Regions from separate parts of the Homo sapiens genome. Here region 2 is linked to region 1. Evidence: fine-mapped QTL for protein levels in blood plasma. Region 1 holds a variant in brackets. A gene starts in the other region. All regions are shown on their reverse strands.

The links. PIP is the posterior inclusion probability: the model's chance that the variant is causal. The UK Biobank Pharma Proteomics Project read protein levels with antibody pairs (Olink). The fine-mapping took linkage between variants from a reference panel, not from the people measured, so its PIPs are less certain.
Region 2: it holds the start of PDGFC, and the variant in region 1 is fine-mapped to the plasma level of the PDGFC protein (UK Biobank, PIP above 0.99).

What each region holds. Positions count from the first base shown.
Region 1 is chr9:114,316,790-114,325,123 of GRCh38, reverse strand. ORM1 (orosomucoid 1) reads right to left here and starts at 2,026. Exons shown (of 6, transcript NM_000607.4): 1 at 1,877-2,026; 2 at 1,319-1,461; 3 at 1,036-1,106; 4 at 227-334; 5 at 1-75. The coding sequence starts at 1,990. LOC105376224 (a long non-coding RNA gene) reads left to right here and starts at 6,681. Exons shown (of 3, transcript XR_930255.3): 1 at 6,681-6,930. RefSeq lists an enhancer at 6,961-7,255. The variant G/T (reference allele first, on the strand shown) is at 3,601.
Region 2 is chr4:156,968,600-156,976,933 of GRCh38, reverse strand. PDGFC (platelet derived growth factor C) reads left to right here and starts at 5,135. Exons shown (of 6, transcript NM_016205.3): 1 at 5,135-6,148. The coding sequence starts at 6,031. RefSeq lists an enhancer at 4,848-5,348.

The DNA.
Region 1 (8,334 bases):
ACTTGGGAATGCGCAAGCAGTCGAGAGCTTCGTAGAACTCTCCCAGTTGCTCCTTGGTCGTCTCTGGCTTGTCAGCTGCAGGGGGAGCAAGGAGACTGACTGGGGACATGGTGGGGCCCGGCGGGAGGCCAGGGAGGGCTGGGGTTCTAGGGGCCAGCCCAGGGGTGGGTGAATGGGGGGTGAGGCCTGAGAGGGGCATGAGTTTGGGGCTGCTAAGCATGCCTACCATAGACAGACAGCCCCCAGTTCTTCTCATCGTTCACGTCAAAAGCAAGCATGTAGGTCTTGGTGTCCCTGAGGATCAGCAAGTGAGCGAAATGCTCTTGGCCTCCCACTGGAAGAGAAAAGGAGCCTCTGGGTGAGAACATGGGATGGCACAATGGTGTCTGTCTTACAGGTGAGGAGGCCTAGGTGTGTCAGTGGCCACACAGCCCATCAGTGAAGGCCCAGGGCTCCTTTGGGCCACCGTGTGCCCAGCCCCTGCTGCATGCCCAGCTCCACGCCAAGCACTTTCTGTACATGAGATCTCAGGAGCCTCACACAGACCGTGGCTGTCAGGGCCTTTCTCCGTTTTACAGATGAGGAAAATGAGGCCCAGAGAGGAGGCTCGGGATGCTAAATGGTGTCAGTTCAGCTCCATCAGCTCCCTGCCATGTGCCACCTCTGCGGTGATGGGGGACATAGTTGAAGGTACCACCTCTCCAACATACAGGCTTCTACCATTGGTTTGCAAAGGATCTTAAAGAGGGCATGAGAGAGAGGCAGATCTGAAGCCAGCCTGGAGTTCCAATTCTAGTTCTAATTATAAGCTGTGTGACCTTGGGGAAACTATTTGAGGTCTCTGTTCTTCTTTTTCCTCCTCTAATTCTCTCAGTGTCCTCTTAGAGTTGTTTCTGAGCACATCGTTAGAGCTCAAAAATGTTAGTGGTTATTTCTCTGTGCCCAAAGCCTCCAGGGCTCTACATCCAGCCCCCACCTTATGCTGGCCTGCCCTGTTCCCACAGTGAACCCTCCTGCCTGAGGGCTGGCCCTCACCGTATCTGGAGATGGTCCCATTTTCCCGCTGGACATTCAGGTAGGTGGTGTTATAGATGCACTGGTCCTGTCTAAAGCCAAACAGAAGGCGGAAGGAAAACAGGAAGATTATTGAGAAGTGGCCAATCGCCCATCACAGTCCTGGGGCAAGAGTCTGGTGGAGATTAAAGCCAGCCCTCCCGGTTCCACCCATGGGAAGGCCAAGGCCAGGAAGAAGGAGGGACTTGCTCAGGTCTTCTGGCCAGAAGCTGAGATGGGGGTGCATTGGAATGGGGGCTCTCACCGGGTCTGGTACTCTCTGAGAAAGATCGTGTCCTCTGTCTTGTTGGGGGTGAAGTAAAAGAAGGTTGCTTGGATCTCCTGAACCGACTTATTGTACTCCTCGTTTCGAAAGGCCGATGCGATATAAAACCACTTGCCAGTGATCTGGGGAGAAGGTGGGAGCTGGTGATGGGGGCTTGATGCTGAATCTTTGACTGTCAGCTGGGAGGAGACTCAGGCAGATCTCTCCCTGATTTTGCAGATGGGGAGATGAGGCCCCTGGTGGGCAGTGCGCATGCAGGAGCTCACCCTGAGGATCAGTCATTGCCCCCCAGGCAGCCCCTCCAGGCCCAGCACAGAACCGTCCTCCGTGAAGGACTCTGCAGTGAGGCTTCTGTGTTTGGAGGCAGGGGGTGCCTCCAGAGTCCCCTGGGCTGGTGAGAATTTCACCCTGGGGACCCAGAAGAGAAAAAGGCAGAGCCGGGAGTGGGGGTCCGACCACAGCCAGCAGGGAAAGGGAAGCCCAGAGAAGGGAGGCAGCTGCCCATGTGCTCAGGACAGGGCTAGCCCAGGCACTCACCCGGTCCAGGGTGGCGTTGGTGATGGGCACCGGTACTAGGTTGGCACACAATGGGATCTGGGCTTCCAGCAGAGGTAGGAGGCTCAGGACTGTAAGAACCCAGGACAGCGCCATACTGAGACCAGGAGGCACGTGGAGCCAGGCAGTGCTGGTGGCTGCAGGGTGCAGTCACCTTTATAATAAACTATGGGCGGTCACTTGGAGCCCAGCAAAAGTTTACTCTGTGTCTGTGACACAATCCTGCCAGCACTTGGGAAATGCCTCGCACAAAACCTCCCCCAAAGGCCAGCTCGGAGCACCGCCTCCAAACCCAGGTCTAATTTGAGTTCCTCACATGGAGAGGTTACAAAAGCCCTAGAGTATGGCTGCCCAAGGCCAAGGTGGGTGCGGGGCTGCAGCAACATTAGTAAACGTGTGAGTCCACAGATTTCCTAGAGAGGCCTCCCGCAGAGGAATCTCATGTCTTCATTCAATTCCTATCCCTCTGAGTGCCAAGACTTACTTCAGTGGGACCCAGCCACAAACCTAATGATGAAGCCACCTTTGAGGGTCCCCAGGCTGGCATGGGATGTATGTTGTGGCGGGGAGAGTTGGGGTGAAGGATGCCGGGGAAGACAAACATAGATTCAGTTCCACTGAGTGTGGCAACAGCTGTGTCAGAGCCAAAGTTCATTGGGGCCCCAACCCAGCCCTGGACGCAGGCACATTTCCAAAAAGGGACATCCAAGTTGAATGTCTATTTCCAGTAAATATACTACTCGAAGCATCTCCCAACATCTCAAACAGGAAACTGTCTCCCTGTTTTCCCCCATTCCCTGCCATCTGAGCAGGCAGCTTGCTTCTCTTTCACCAATACGCCCCCAATCCTGGAGCAGTGCCCAGCACTTCAAGGGCACTCGGTATATTCTGTGGAATGAGTGATTCCGTGGCCCATTTGTGTTCCTACCTCACGGGTCAAGTCTTTATTTGTATGAATAAATACTTTCAGAAAGTATTCATTTTTTTTTTTTTTTGATACGGAGTTTCACTCCCGTCCCCCAGGCTGGAGTGCAATGGCTCAATCTCGGCTCACTGCAACCTGTGCCTCCTGGGTTCAAGCGATTCTCCTGCCTCAGCCTCCTGAGTCGCTGGGATTACTGGTGCCCTCCACAACGCCCAGCTAATTTTTTTTGTTGTTGTTATTTTCAGTAGAGATGGGGTTTCTCCATGTTGGCCAGGCTGGTCTGGAACTCCCGACCTCAGGTGACTCACCCGTCTCGGCCTCCCAAAGTGCTGGGATTACTCAGAAAGTATTCTTACGGTATGATTATAATTTTGCATTCTTATTCATTTCATTCTGAATAACTTTCATATTTCAGTGTAGTTTGTAGTTAAAAGCTTAATGGACCCAAGATGGGAGAGTCACCTGAGTCCTGGAGTTCAAGACTAGCCTGGGCAACATAGTGAGACCCTATCTTTACACAAAAATATTTAAAAATTAGCCAGGTCGGCCAGGCGCGGTGGCTCACGCCTGTAATCCCAGCACTTTGGGAGGCTGAGGCGGGCGGATCATGAGGTCAAGAGATGGAGACCATCCTGGCTAACATGGTGAAACCCCATCTCTACTAAAAATACAAAAACAAAATTAGCTGGGCGTGGTGGCAGGCGCCTGTAGTCCCAGCTACTTGGGAGGCTGAGATGGGAGAATGGCGTGAACCTGGGAGGCAGAGCTTGCAGTGAGCTGA[G/T]ATGGCGCCACTGCACTCCAGCCTGGGTGACAGAGTGAGACTCCGTCTCAAGGAAAACAAACAAACAAACAAAAAAATTAGCCAGGTCTGGTGCCATGTACCTGAAAGCCTAGCTACTCTGGACTCTGAGGCTGGAAGATTGCTTGAGCCCAGGAGTTCAAAGCTGCAGTAAGCTGTGATTTTGCCACTACACTCCAGCCTGTATGATGGAGCAAGAGACCCTGTCTCAAAAATAAATAAATAAATAAATAAATAAAAGTGTAATGGATGCACAACTTTTCATTCACTTACTCTATTCTTTTTTTGTTTTTGTTTTTGTTCTGAAATGGCATCTCACTCTGTCGCCCAGGCTGGAGTGTAGTGGTGGGATCTTGGCTCACTGCAACCTCTGCCACCCAGGCTCAAGAGATCCTCCCAGCTCAGCCTCCCGAGTAGCTAGGACCACAGGTGCGTGCCACCACACCTGGCTAACTTTTTGTACTTTTGTAGAGATGGGGGTCTCATCATGTTGCCCAGGTTGGTCTCGAACTCCTGAGCTTAAGCAATCTGCCCACCTCGGCCTCCCAGAGTACTGGGATTACAGGCATGAGCCACGGCGCCTGGCCCGCTTACTATATTCTAACCTACTTAGTCATGTCCTTTATGTCTACAGCACTTTTTTTTTTTTTTCAGGCTCTTCAAGTTGGAGTGCAGTGGTATGAATCATAGCTCAACTGCAGCCTCAAACTCCTGGGCTCAAGCAATCCTCCCACCTCAGCCTCTGGAGTAGCTAGGACTACAGGCATGCACCACCACACTTGGCTAATTAAATTTAAAAAACAAAAAATTGTAGAGACAGAGTCTCACTATGTTGCCCAGACTGGTCTTGAACTTCTGGCCTCAAGTGATCCTCCTGCCTCAGCCTCCCAAAGTGCTGGATTATAGGCGTGAGCCACCACTCCCAGCCTATCTAACAGCATTTCATATTGTGATTTTTCCTCTGATGATAAGTGTCAGAGAGCAGCCAATTTCCCTTTTAAAATTACCTTAGTATCCAAGGGAAAGGAAACCACGTGCTATGCACAAAGTCTTACATATTAATGTTCATAACAGCATTGCTCAAAATAGCCAAAATTAGAAATAATCCAAGGGTGGGGCACCACGGCTCACGCCTGTAATCCCAGCACTTTGGGAGGCCGAGGTGGGCGGATCACAAGGTCAAGAGATCGAGACAAGCCTGGCCAACATGGAGAAACTCCGTCTCTACTAAAAATACAAAAATTAGCTGAGTGTGGTGGCATGCGCCTGTAGTACCAGCTACTCAGGAGGCTGAGGCAGGAGAATCGCTCAAACCTGGGAGGTGGAGCTTGCAGTTAGCCGAGATCGTGCCACTGCACTCCAGCCTGGTGACAGAGCAAGACTGTCTAAAAAACAAAAACAAAAGCAAAAACAAAAACCAAAAAAAAAGAAAGAAACAATCCAAATGCCCATCAACAGGAAAATGGTAAATAAAAATGTGGCATTTTCTTACAAAGGAATATTACTTAACAATAAAAATAGTTAAACTATTGATACATATAACACCATGGATGAATCTCAAAAACACTATGCTGAACAAAAGAAGCCAGATACAAAGGAGCTTATATACTGTACGGTTCTGTTCTAGAACAGCTCAAACAAATCTATAATTTTAGAAATCAGATCAGTGGTTGCCAAGGGCAAAAGAGGGCAATTTGACTGCAAAAGCATATGAGAGAACACTGAAGTGGATGACAACGATCCAGGTTGTCATCGTGGTGGCCATTATACACACACACGTATAGTTGTAAAAACTAATTGAACAGTAAACCTAAAATGTGTGCATTTTCTTTTATTTATTCAACCTCAAGAAAGCCGATGATTTAAAAACCCTCCTCCCAAACATGACAAATCCAAAAGCACTAAGGATTTTGAATGTCAGTTTGGCAGTGTACAAGTGAGTCTCCTTATCCCCATCCTTGTCAGAACAGAAATGACCCTTTTTTTTTCCTTTCTTTTTTGTGTTTTTGCCAGCTTGGTTTGTTTCTTGAATTTGCATTGCTCTAATTTGAGGCTTGAAACAATGATTGGAGTTATCAAGAGGGAAGAGCGCAGGTGAGAGAGTGGGTGTATCAGGGAGCTGGAAAGTCTGTGCAGCTGGAGCACATGATAAGTGGGAGTGGCCAGACTTTATGTTGAAGAGGTTGGCAGGAGATGGAGCCTGCAGGGCATGGAAGCCAGGCTGAGGGGTTCGCTAGACTTAGGAGGTGTAGGAGAGAAATGGAAAGATTTCAAAGGGGTTGGAAAGGCATAACCAGATTGGTTCTTCAGAAAGATCGCTCTGTCTGAATGGGAAGAATGGGGAGGGCTAGGGAAGGAGATTAAACCTGAGAAACCAGCTGGAGCTGATGCAGTGGTCCAGGGGTGAGATGATGGGGACAGACTCCAGATACCATTCATCTATCTAACATCTATCTATCTATCATCTATCTACCTATCTATCTATCTATCTATCTATCTATCATCTATCTACCTACCTATCATCTATCATCTATCTCTATCTATCTATCTATCTATCTATCTATCTAATCTATCTATCATCTATCTATCATCTATCTATCTATCTATCTATCTATCTATCTATCTATCATCTATCTATCTATCTATCTGAGACAAGGTTTCACTCTGTCGCCCAGGCTGGAGTGCAGTGGCACGATCTCAGTTCACTGCAGCCTCCGCCTCCCGAGTTCCAGCAATTCTCCTATCCAGCCTCCCTAGTAGCTGGGATTACAGGTGTCACTACCACACCTGGCTAATTTCTTTTGTATTTTTGGTACGGACAGGGTTTCGCCATGTTGGCCAGGCTGATCTTGAACTCCTGACCTCAAGTGATCCACCCGCCTCGGCCTTCCAAAGTGCTGGGATTTCAGGTGTAAGCCACCGTGCCCAGCCCAGATACCATGTATTTTGAGGAGAAGCTGAGCATTGTTGGGGACAGCACCACCATTAGACCTGGACTATTGGGGCCCAGGGATTTAGAGAGCCCCACATATCACACCCACCCACACACCCACCCACACACAACAGTTTATTAAATAACAGATAAGCACCTCTGTCCTTTGGGATCTGGTGCCTGGTACTGGCACAGTGGGACCCACATCACTGATTATTCTCTTTCACAACCAACACTGTTTAGGCCCCAGGAAACAATCTCTACATGTGGCACTCGACTCTGAAAACAACAGGTCAAATGTCCTGATACTTCGTGGATGATGCCACCGCAGACATAGGAGACAGACACTGCTTCAAGAGAGGATTTGAGTGAACTTGGAGGTAAGAAAAAAGACAAATTAACATTTTAACTCTTCCCTTTCAGCATAAATGCCAACAAAAAAACTCTTTGTTTTGCCAGAAACACTGAAAGTCTATTTTCTTGCAATGTGTGGTTAGAGAGATCCTCCTGAGTTAGAAATAAACAGTACATGCAACAGTTGCACATGGTTGCTGAGAAACATTTGGCAATATTGCATCATTATTACTCCTAAATGTGTGTGTCTGATGTCTGTAGATGGTGCCCACATACAGCCTGAATCTAGTTCTTTTTCTCTTTATTTTCTTGAGACAGAGTCTGGCTCTGTCACCCAGGTTGGAGTGCAGTGGCACAATCTTGGCTTACTGCAACCTCCATCTCCCAGGTTCAAGAAATTCTCCGGCCTCAGCCTCCTGAATAACTGGGATTACAGGCGCCTGCCACCACACCTGGCTAATTTTTGTATTTTTAGTACAGACGGGGTTTCATCATGTTGGCCAGGCTCGTCTCAAACTCCTGACCTCAAATGATCTGCCTGCCTCGACCTCCCAAAGTGCTGGGATTACAGTTGTGAGTCACTGCATCAGGACAATTGAATCTGGTTCTTGACATGGGCATGTAGAGGCTGCATGCTAGCCTCGTGAATAATTTTCAGTTGTACAAATCTTTTGGACATGATTTAATTAATTAATTAAATTTCTTTTTTTTTTTTTTTCGAGACAGAGTCTCGCTCTGTTGCCCAGGCTGGAGTGCAGTGGCACAATCTCAGCTCACTGCAAGCTCCACCTCCTGGGTTCACGCCATTCTCCTGCCTCAGCCTCCTGAGTAGCTGGGAATACAGGCGCCCGCCACCATGCCCGGCTAATATTTTTTTGTATTTTTTTAGTAGAGACAGGGTTTCACCGGGTTAGCCAGGATGGTCTCGATCTCCTGACCTTGTGATCCACCCGCCTCAGCCTCCCAAAGTGCTGGGATAATTAATTAAATTTCTAAAACTTAAATGTAAACATGTCAGCTTCATTTAAAATACTTTTGATTTATAACGTTCAGGCACTTAGGCCAATGGGGTCTGGGGTCTCCGTCTGCTCGAGTGTAGAGATCCCAGGCGCAGCCTGTGTAGGGGAAGGGTGAATAAGGAGAGCTACCACCATTCAAAGCGGAGCTGTGCACTGTGAATGCAGTACAGAGGCGCTTCCGAGTGCCTCTCCTTGGCAGGAGTAAGTGGTCTTCAGTGTCCTCACTGTCCCTCAGGCTGCCGCTTGGGGGTCTCACTCTCCACCTTAGACTATCCAAGTAATTCCTCCAAGCTCATCTGGCACCTACCCTACCACAGTACAATTTTCTCTGTCTCCTAACATTTCAGGTATGCATGAATGCCTCTAAAGACTGAGGCTTTAAGTAGTCCTTCTAGCTCGTCTGGCCCTATC
Region 2 (8,334 bases), not on the chromosome of region 1:
TACAGAGGATGAGGGAAACACAAAGGGAAATTGTGCTGATAAAAACAAAATTTGGGAAAAGAAAATGATCCCTTAAGAGTGTTGCAAGTCTGCTTTAAAAGAAAACAAGCAGATTTATTACTGCAAAGATGATAAGGAAAGCAAATAGTAATAATCATAATAGAAAGGGGGGTCTGTTGATCTATCTTGAACTTCAAAAGCAGTTGAGGATACTTTTAATATTAGATTAGTTAAGCCATATTTTCCTTTCTTCTAGCCAGCCAGCAATACTTTTTGATGTTCACTGTTAAGTAGTGGGCTGAGACTATCCACCTCTTTTACAAAGGCTAGTAGCCAAGGAAAGGACTGCATTTGAAACAATGATCACAAAGTGAAAGGCTCCTTCTCCCATGACCTTTGAAATAAGAAGGTCACTATCTGAGAAAGGAGGGTCTGTAGCTGTGTCTTGACCTCTTTACTATGATTTGTCACAATGGGGACAACAGCCTTCATATCCTACAAATGATTTCAAGAGAGAGAAAAATGACACCTTATTGACTCTAAGATATGGACAAAGATAGTGTTGCTGTCCATGTTCTTAGGGGATACCCCTTGCTCTCCAGATTGTTTCACATTCCACCAGTGTGACTCAATAGAACAGTATGAGTTTGACCATCTGTTCTTGGCTAACAACAATATTATTTCCTTAGTGTTTACAACTCAGTTATGTACAATAGCTATTTCTTTTTACCTTGACACTCCGCTTAGGACTGCACTTTGCCTCTTTCGAGGCTGTTAGCATGATAACAACCAAATATTGAAAAGTAAAATATGAATACCTGCACCTATTGAAGGCCTGGGGATTTATTTGGTTTCCTTGAATTCCATGATATTCCTGTATACTTGCCCTAGCCAGTGATTTCCAAACTCTGTCCCCTCTTCTTTTTGATTACCATTAGAGCTTGGTTTTTCAAACTATGGCAATAACAGATACAATAGTACTGCTCTAGTTGAGCAAGTTTAGAAAGAAGAACCTGTTCATTATCTCTTTTGCCAGCCACGAAGACATCTCTGATATGAGGCTAGGAAACTTGTGCTAGTAATTTTTTATCACAGAAGCACACTGAAGATGAAAAAGTCTTGCCATCATTATCTATAATAGCTCAGAGAATTTCTAAAGCAGTAGGGGGATCAAGACAGAAGCCAGTGGCGATTCCTCATGTAAGGAAAAGGAAACTGAGGGGCAGAGAAGATTTCTAGATCAAGGTTGTACTGTTTATTAGTGGTAAAGCCAGACTAAGCCCCTGACCTCCCATCTCCCAGTGAAATGATCTTTTGTTGTGGTGGTTCAAAGGTTACTAGGGCTTCTCTTTCTTTACGGCTGTTTCTGGCTAGTTACTCCCTCTGAGTTCAGAGTCAGACAAACACTTCTAAGATTTTGGAAAATCTTAGATTTCAATAAGGAAATAGCAGCTTTACTTCAAAGGAAAAGGCCACAGAGAGCCAACTAAAGTCCATTTCTGCAGGTCACACTTCTCTTAACTCCCCATCCTCCAGATCCATTCCCCAGGAAAGTCAGACTGACAAAGTGTGTCTTCTTCTAGAGCAGAGCCTTAGCAAAACCCTCTACCCTCAGCCTCAGCAGGTAAACCCTTCTCAGATTAGCAGCTGATACACTGGGGAGGTAAAAGTTACCTGATGCTAGAAGAATAAAATGTAATGAAAAGTGTCTCATTTCTTGGTTGGAAAAACAGAGTATTGATATATATCTTCATAACCTAGAGATAGCAAGGTCGTATTTCTCAAGATGAGGTAGTGGGAAAAGTGGAAAGAGAAGAGGATGACTCTAAGACAGACTACTGACTTCATTTATTTATTTATTTCTTTTTTTCCTAACACAGTCTTTATTCCTGCTGTGGTCTGTGGACGTTTACTTTGACTACTAATGATATCTCCAGTCCTGCCATATATATATATATATATATATATATATATATATATATATATATATATATATATATTTGTTACTTGTCAGCCATTCTCAATACACAATGAGTATTTAGGTAGAAGAAAGCTTTCTGAACTTCAGGAAATCATGCTCAATTATCTGCCACTAAAATACTGAAATGTTCCAGGAAAAGTCTTAAAATAACTTTGCACATATGCCTCTGTGTGTGTGTGCATGCACGTGTGTGTGTGTGTTAGGATCAAAACAGAAAAATAAAGAGCAAGAAAACGTAGATTTTTTTTTTTGGTGGCAAAAATATGTCCCCATGGTTCCCGCCCCTTTGAGTGTTAAGTGGCTAGCTAAAGGAGTAGGTTGCTTTAAAATCTTATTTCACTTAAAAACATTTAGTAGTGACACCCCCTCCCCCAAATTATCATTGTTAACCACCAAGTGTATTCTTTAGTAAGAATTTGTGGTAATACTCTTCATGCATGCAGCAGCAATGGGCACTCCTTCTTAAGGTTTAAGAAAACATGAAAACCACAAAGAATGTCTGAAATTATTTTCTCTTGGTTGGCGGAACAGATGCCTTTCATCAAGGAAAATGCCTTTGGCCAAAACAAAGCCATATTCATTTAAAATATATTGTTTAGTAATTGCACAGACTCTGGATTATATAAAATTTACTTTCAATGCAAAGATTTCATTTTTCTAGAAAAGGTTAACAAGCAAAATAGAGCAGGAAGACAGGCAGAGGATAATGTGTTAAAAGAATCAACTACGTCAAGGGCAAGAGCAGTTCAAGAAATGACAATGCAAGTACATTGAAAGGAAATTGGCCAATGTGGATGTGATTTTGTCTAGGGGTCATTCAGGAACACCTGGCTGACTTTATTTATAAGGCGATTGTCAAATCAATCTGTAGAATATGGATGAGGTGAAACGCAGAGGTAGAGTATTATTCTAGATCATCTGTAACTTTTCAAATACAACTATCGCACTGAAATTCCAGGGAGAATGTAAGTGACTCCAATAAAGAAACCTGTCAGTCAGTCAAGAGTGTTTATTTATTATCCCCCTGTGCCAAGCAATATTCTAGCCAATATGAAATGATACAAAATAAAGAGTAGTCATCACCCTTCCAATCTCCTGAGAGCAAATGGATTACATTTGCAGACACACACACACACACACACACACACACACACACACACACCCCACCTCTATGTGGGTGGTCAGGAAACTCAACTATATGGACATATAACAATTTCATTTAGAAAAGTGCTGATTAGAAAACTAAACTTACAAAATTAGAAAAACTGGAGAATAATGAATTTTATGAAAAATAGATTACAATGGATTCATAAGGCATGCCCTTTATTTAAGTCCCATTATGTTATTAAAATTGGGAATAACCCTTCACCCTCACAAATTTACAAAATATTTTTGGAACACATTATGCAAATATGGAGTCACACTGGTGTTGTGGAGCTGCTAACTCGAATAAAATACCATACTTGATAAAAAACCTTCTGTCCACTAAACTGTAAATGCCTTAAAGTCAAAGATCAGGCCTTATTTGCCTTTAGTGTATATTTAGTACTCTGTAGATAGAAGTGGTAAAGGGATAAGAATGAATGAATGAGACAGGCGGGTGAAATTTTCAAGAATGAGACAGATGGGTGAAGTTTTCAAAGGTTTCTAAAAGGGAAAAACAAGAAGACTAGGATATTCCAAGCAGAAAGGTCTGGTTGGTTGGCCCCAGTTGGTGTTCGCATATAAGAAGAGGGCTTGGCATTTTCCTCACCACTGAAGAAGGATCAGCCCCTGGTTTGGTCCAGTAAGAATATGTTCTTGCCCAAATGCCACTCCTTAGTTTCAGGGACATTGCTATTTTGGTTTTCTGTTCCAGCCCAAGTGTTCTTGATGGTCGAATTGTTTGCATTGACTTTTTTTCCACAAGAAGTTGGGTGATATTGCTGATTTGCCTGCCATGGCACTTCCTTGTTTTCATTTTGATTATTACTCAAAAATAGCTTCATTTTAAAATTCAACTTTTCTGACTCTCTGCTTGTGCCTTTAACACATTGACAATGATTTTCTGCTTCTCCACAAAGAAAGCACGTTGGATCCTGTCACAGACATATTTAGCAGACATGGAACCACCATAAGCCCTGCTTGGCATGTGTGTTTCATTTCAGACTACCTCATGAGAACTTTAGGTCTTAAAGCATCGGCCTCTCTCTCCAAGTCAGCCTGAACACAAGCCACAAGAGATTTCAGTTCTTTCTCGACCTTTTTGGTGTAAATGTAAACAATTCTATCACCAGGGGTTCAGGGCAGCCTAGTTTTGTTAGAGGCTGTATTGTAGGAAAGTCCAAGGTTGCAGGATCATTCTGAGTCCCTTAGACACCATTCTCAGAAGAGCTTGCTATTAGCTTAATGCTGCCCAACTACTACGTATGCTTCACGAGGGCAGGGACTTTTGTCTGTTTTCACTGCTACGGCTCCAACCTCTAAACAGTGCCCGACATAGTAGGCATTCAGTAAATATAGTACTTGTTAAATGGATGTTATTTTGGCTGCCTTTACTTTTGCTTTATTTGTCCTGCTTTACGGAGCTGGAAATTGGAGGAAAGCCTTTGAATTCATTTCCCTTCTTCCTTCTGTTCTGAAACTCTGGCCAAGGGTCCTAGCAAAGACCTTAGGGAGTGGGGAGCCCTCCTGGAAACTAATGACAAGTCAGGCGACAGGGGGCGGGAGAAGGAGAGCTGCAGGAAGTTCTTTCCCACTTACTTCTGCAGCACCCTTCACCACCCATCGTGCTCTGTATTTGGGGTTAGAGGTGTTCCGTGGAAGGGAAAGCAGGGGCCGCCTTGGCCGCGTTCCTCTCCTGGGCCACCGGGGTCTTGCCCACAGCGAGTCCCGCAGCACCCCCTGTCTGCGCAGCACCTGTTGACAGCCAGTGGGCGGCCAAGCCCGCTCGCGCGGACGCGTCCCAGGGCTGCCCCTCCCAGAGGCGCTGACCCCCGCCCGCCCCATCGGCCGCCTGCGGGAGAGCCGCTGAGCCGCCCCCGCTCGCCAGGCGCGCGCTCCGCCCGGGCTCGGCCCACGGCCCCCACCTCCTGTCTGCCGCCCGGCGGGGGGAAGGTAGAGAAGGGGAGGGGACAAGCCGGATCCTCCCGGCCGCCCCGGCCTTCCCTCTTCACCCCGTGCGGAGACGCCGCGCGTAGCCCCGAGGTTAGCGCGGAGCCCGAGGCGTGGGGGGAGGGGACGGGGAACAACCGGAGCCCCGCGGTGACCCCGAGCGGCCGAATTGCCCCAGGCTTTGAGGAGCGGGGGACGAGCCCGAACAAGGTGAACTTTGGTCGCGGAAAACTCAAGCCAGGTGCCGGAATCCGTGCTGCGGCGCTCCGAACCCGGGGCCAACTGCGCTCCGGGCTGAGGAGCGGGAGCCCCGCGGCCTCTCTCCGCCTGCGCCCGGGCCGCCGTCGGCCCGGAGCCCCCCGGCCCCGCTCCGGCGCCCCGGCCCGTGGGACCCGCCGCGGCGCCCTCGCCTTGTTTCTTCCCCCTCCCCCTTCGGGGGTGGGGGGTGGGGCGGGGGAGAGGGGCGCCCGGAGAGCCGCATCTATTGGCAGCTTTGTTATTGATCAGAAACTGCTCGCCGCCGACTTGGCTTCCAGTCTGGCTGCGGGCAACCCTTGAGTTTTCGCCTCTGTCCTGTCCCCCGAACTGACAGGTGCTCCCAGCAACTTGCTGGGGACTTCTCGCCGCTCCCCCGCGTCCCCACCCCCTCATTCCTCCCTCGCCTTCACCCCCACCCCCACCACTTCGCCACAGCTCAGGATTTGTTTAAACCTTGGGAAACTGGTTCAGGTCCAGGTTTTGCTTTGATCCTTTTCAAAAACTGGAGACACAGAAGAGGGCTCTAGGAAAAAGTTTTGGATGGGATTATGTGGAAACTACCCTGCGATTCTCTGCTGCCAGAGCAGGCTCGGCGCTTCCACCCCAGTGCAGCCTTCCCCTGGCGGTGGTGAAAGAGACTCGGGAGTCGCTGCTTCCAAAGTGCCCGCCGTGAGTGAGCTCTCACCCCAGTCAGCCAAATGAGCCTCTTCGGGCTTCTCCTGCTGACATCTGCCCTGGCCGGCCAGAGACAGGGGACTCAGGCGGAATCCAACCTGAGTAGTAAATTCCAGTTTTCCAGCAACAAGGAACAGAACGGTGAGTCTTTCCCCCATTCTCCCCCTGCTTGTTTCTCGCTGTGTGTGTTAACGTTGGCATTGTGCGTTGGTATGTGATATATACCAGACTGTGAAGGTATCTTTGGTCTCTCATTACATGCAAATGTGCGCTGCGTTCATTGGCATGGACTGTTAAAGGTTAAGTGTAGTTTGCAACTTCGGGAGCTGCCACAAAGCTCCAAGAGGGCAACGTGAGTGCCACTGCTGAGTGAGGACATTCTGGGAGCGATTGTGAACGTCATTTCAAATGCACATTGCAGGTTCGCTCATTGCTAAAGTTAGAAGTTCAAGAACTGCCTCTAAAAACGAATCCAAAATGAATGAGCCTTGGCATGTTTGACTTTACTCAGATTTGGGGAGGGCGAGGGGGGTCGGTCAGGAAATATATCAGCCGCATTAATTGAAGCACTCTAGGTCGAAGTCATCAATTAATCAATGAGTAGATAGGAAATATAGAGGTCAAGAGGCTGTGTGGTCGTTTTTAGAGGAATTAAAAAGTGTATTTCTCTTGCTCCCTAGTTTTTGTTTTTTAAACTTGCCTTTGTACTCTGAAGTCCTTACCTTTCTGGTGGTGTGTTTTTGTATGTGTTGGTGAATGACTGCTATTTTGTGTGTGCTGGAAACGACTTAATCCTGCATAGGAAATGAGAATTACTTTCAGCTTTCAAGTGTACCTGAAATGTTTAGAAAACTCTCAGATGCAAGTTCCCTTGGGCTGGGATTGCACAGAGCTGGAGAAAGGCTCCTTTCATAAAGCCAGGGCAGCTTCAGGGTGTGTAATTTGCTTAGCCTCTGAACCCATATGATTTACATCATTCAATTTCTAAACTCTTTTTCTCTTCATCTACCATTATGAAGTCATTTTTGAGAATACTTTGTAAATAGAAATTTTATACTGCACATGAAACCACAATGTTCATGTTAGGCTGTCTAAAATTGGAATATTTAACGCCCTGTTTACAAATGGTGGCTCTTACTGTAATTTGAAAAGGAATATACATGTTTTTACTGCTTTGTATATCATCTATTCAGAATGCAAGGATTCTGTCACTTGATTAACCATGCAAAATGAACACAAGTGGCATACCTACAAAATTAAGATAGGATGTGCTATAGTTTTAAGTCAGAGTGATTTTTTTTCCTTTTCATATTGGGGTGTTTCAAGACTTCAACTTTGAATTTAAACTCTATGAAGTGTTCATGTTTAAGAAAGCACAGAAAGTTTTAGGGTATAAAAGTAGATAAAATAAGGATTCTGCCGACTTTTGCAAACGTTATTTGTATTTGCTGTTGCGCAGCAAGACATAGTATCACATTTATCAGCTAATATTAGTGTGGTGCTTCTTACAACTTGCTAATGTGATGCCACATGGCACCTGCAGGCTCCTTGAGCTGCTGATCAAAGGGCAGCCTAGGGATGTATCTCTAATCACAGTAGCTGCAGAGGTCTGGGGGAAAGTGATCAAAGGAGCCACAGCACCAGCTGTACCCGTGCAGGAAACACATCAGACCAACCTTTGTTCTTTCTCATGTAAAATAAATGTCCAGTTCAAAATATTGCTTCTTACTAGCCAAGCTCCTCCATAATGACAACAATGCACAATATTCCTGGCTTCCTGGCTTCTGTTTTTTATTGTTCCTGTCCCATATCATTTCTCCTATTGCCTTGTCTTATCAAGCCTCTCTTGGCATCTGCCCGAATCTCTTTGCTGACCTGTGCTTCTCTTTGTCCTTTCCTTTTAGTTCTCTCTTGTGATCCCCATGCTATCATCACTTTGTAAGGGTCCCAGAGCTGTCATGCAGCATGTGGTCATAGGCCACTTTACCCAAGTAGATTCACACCTCCAGGAGAGATGAGTTCATTAAGCCAGGCCACACACATTCTGTTGCCATCTGAGGCTGGGCCATTTCCATTCCTAAGATGCATGATGCTAAAAATTGCTGCTTGTTTCCTAATCTGTGGGTAGAGGATTAGGCTATGTTTGGGGGTTGGTCTATGTTAAGGATGGCAGCAGGAAGTAACTAGAAGTAGAGGAACTACTTGTAGTTTTTAGCCCAAGGAGAAGTGGCACTGGCCAGCACTAGGGGGCAATATAGAGCTATTTTCTTGCACATGCTCAGGTTGATTTTTATACGTAAATGTTTCAAGATTTGAGGGTAACAGGT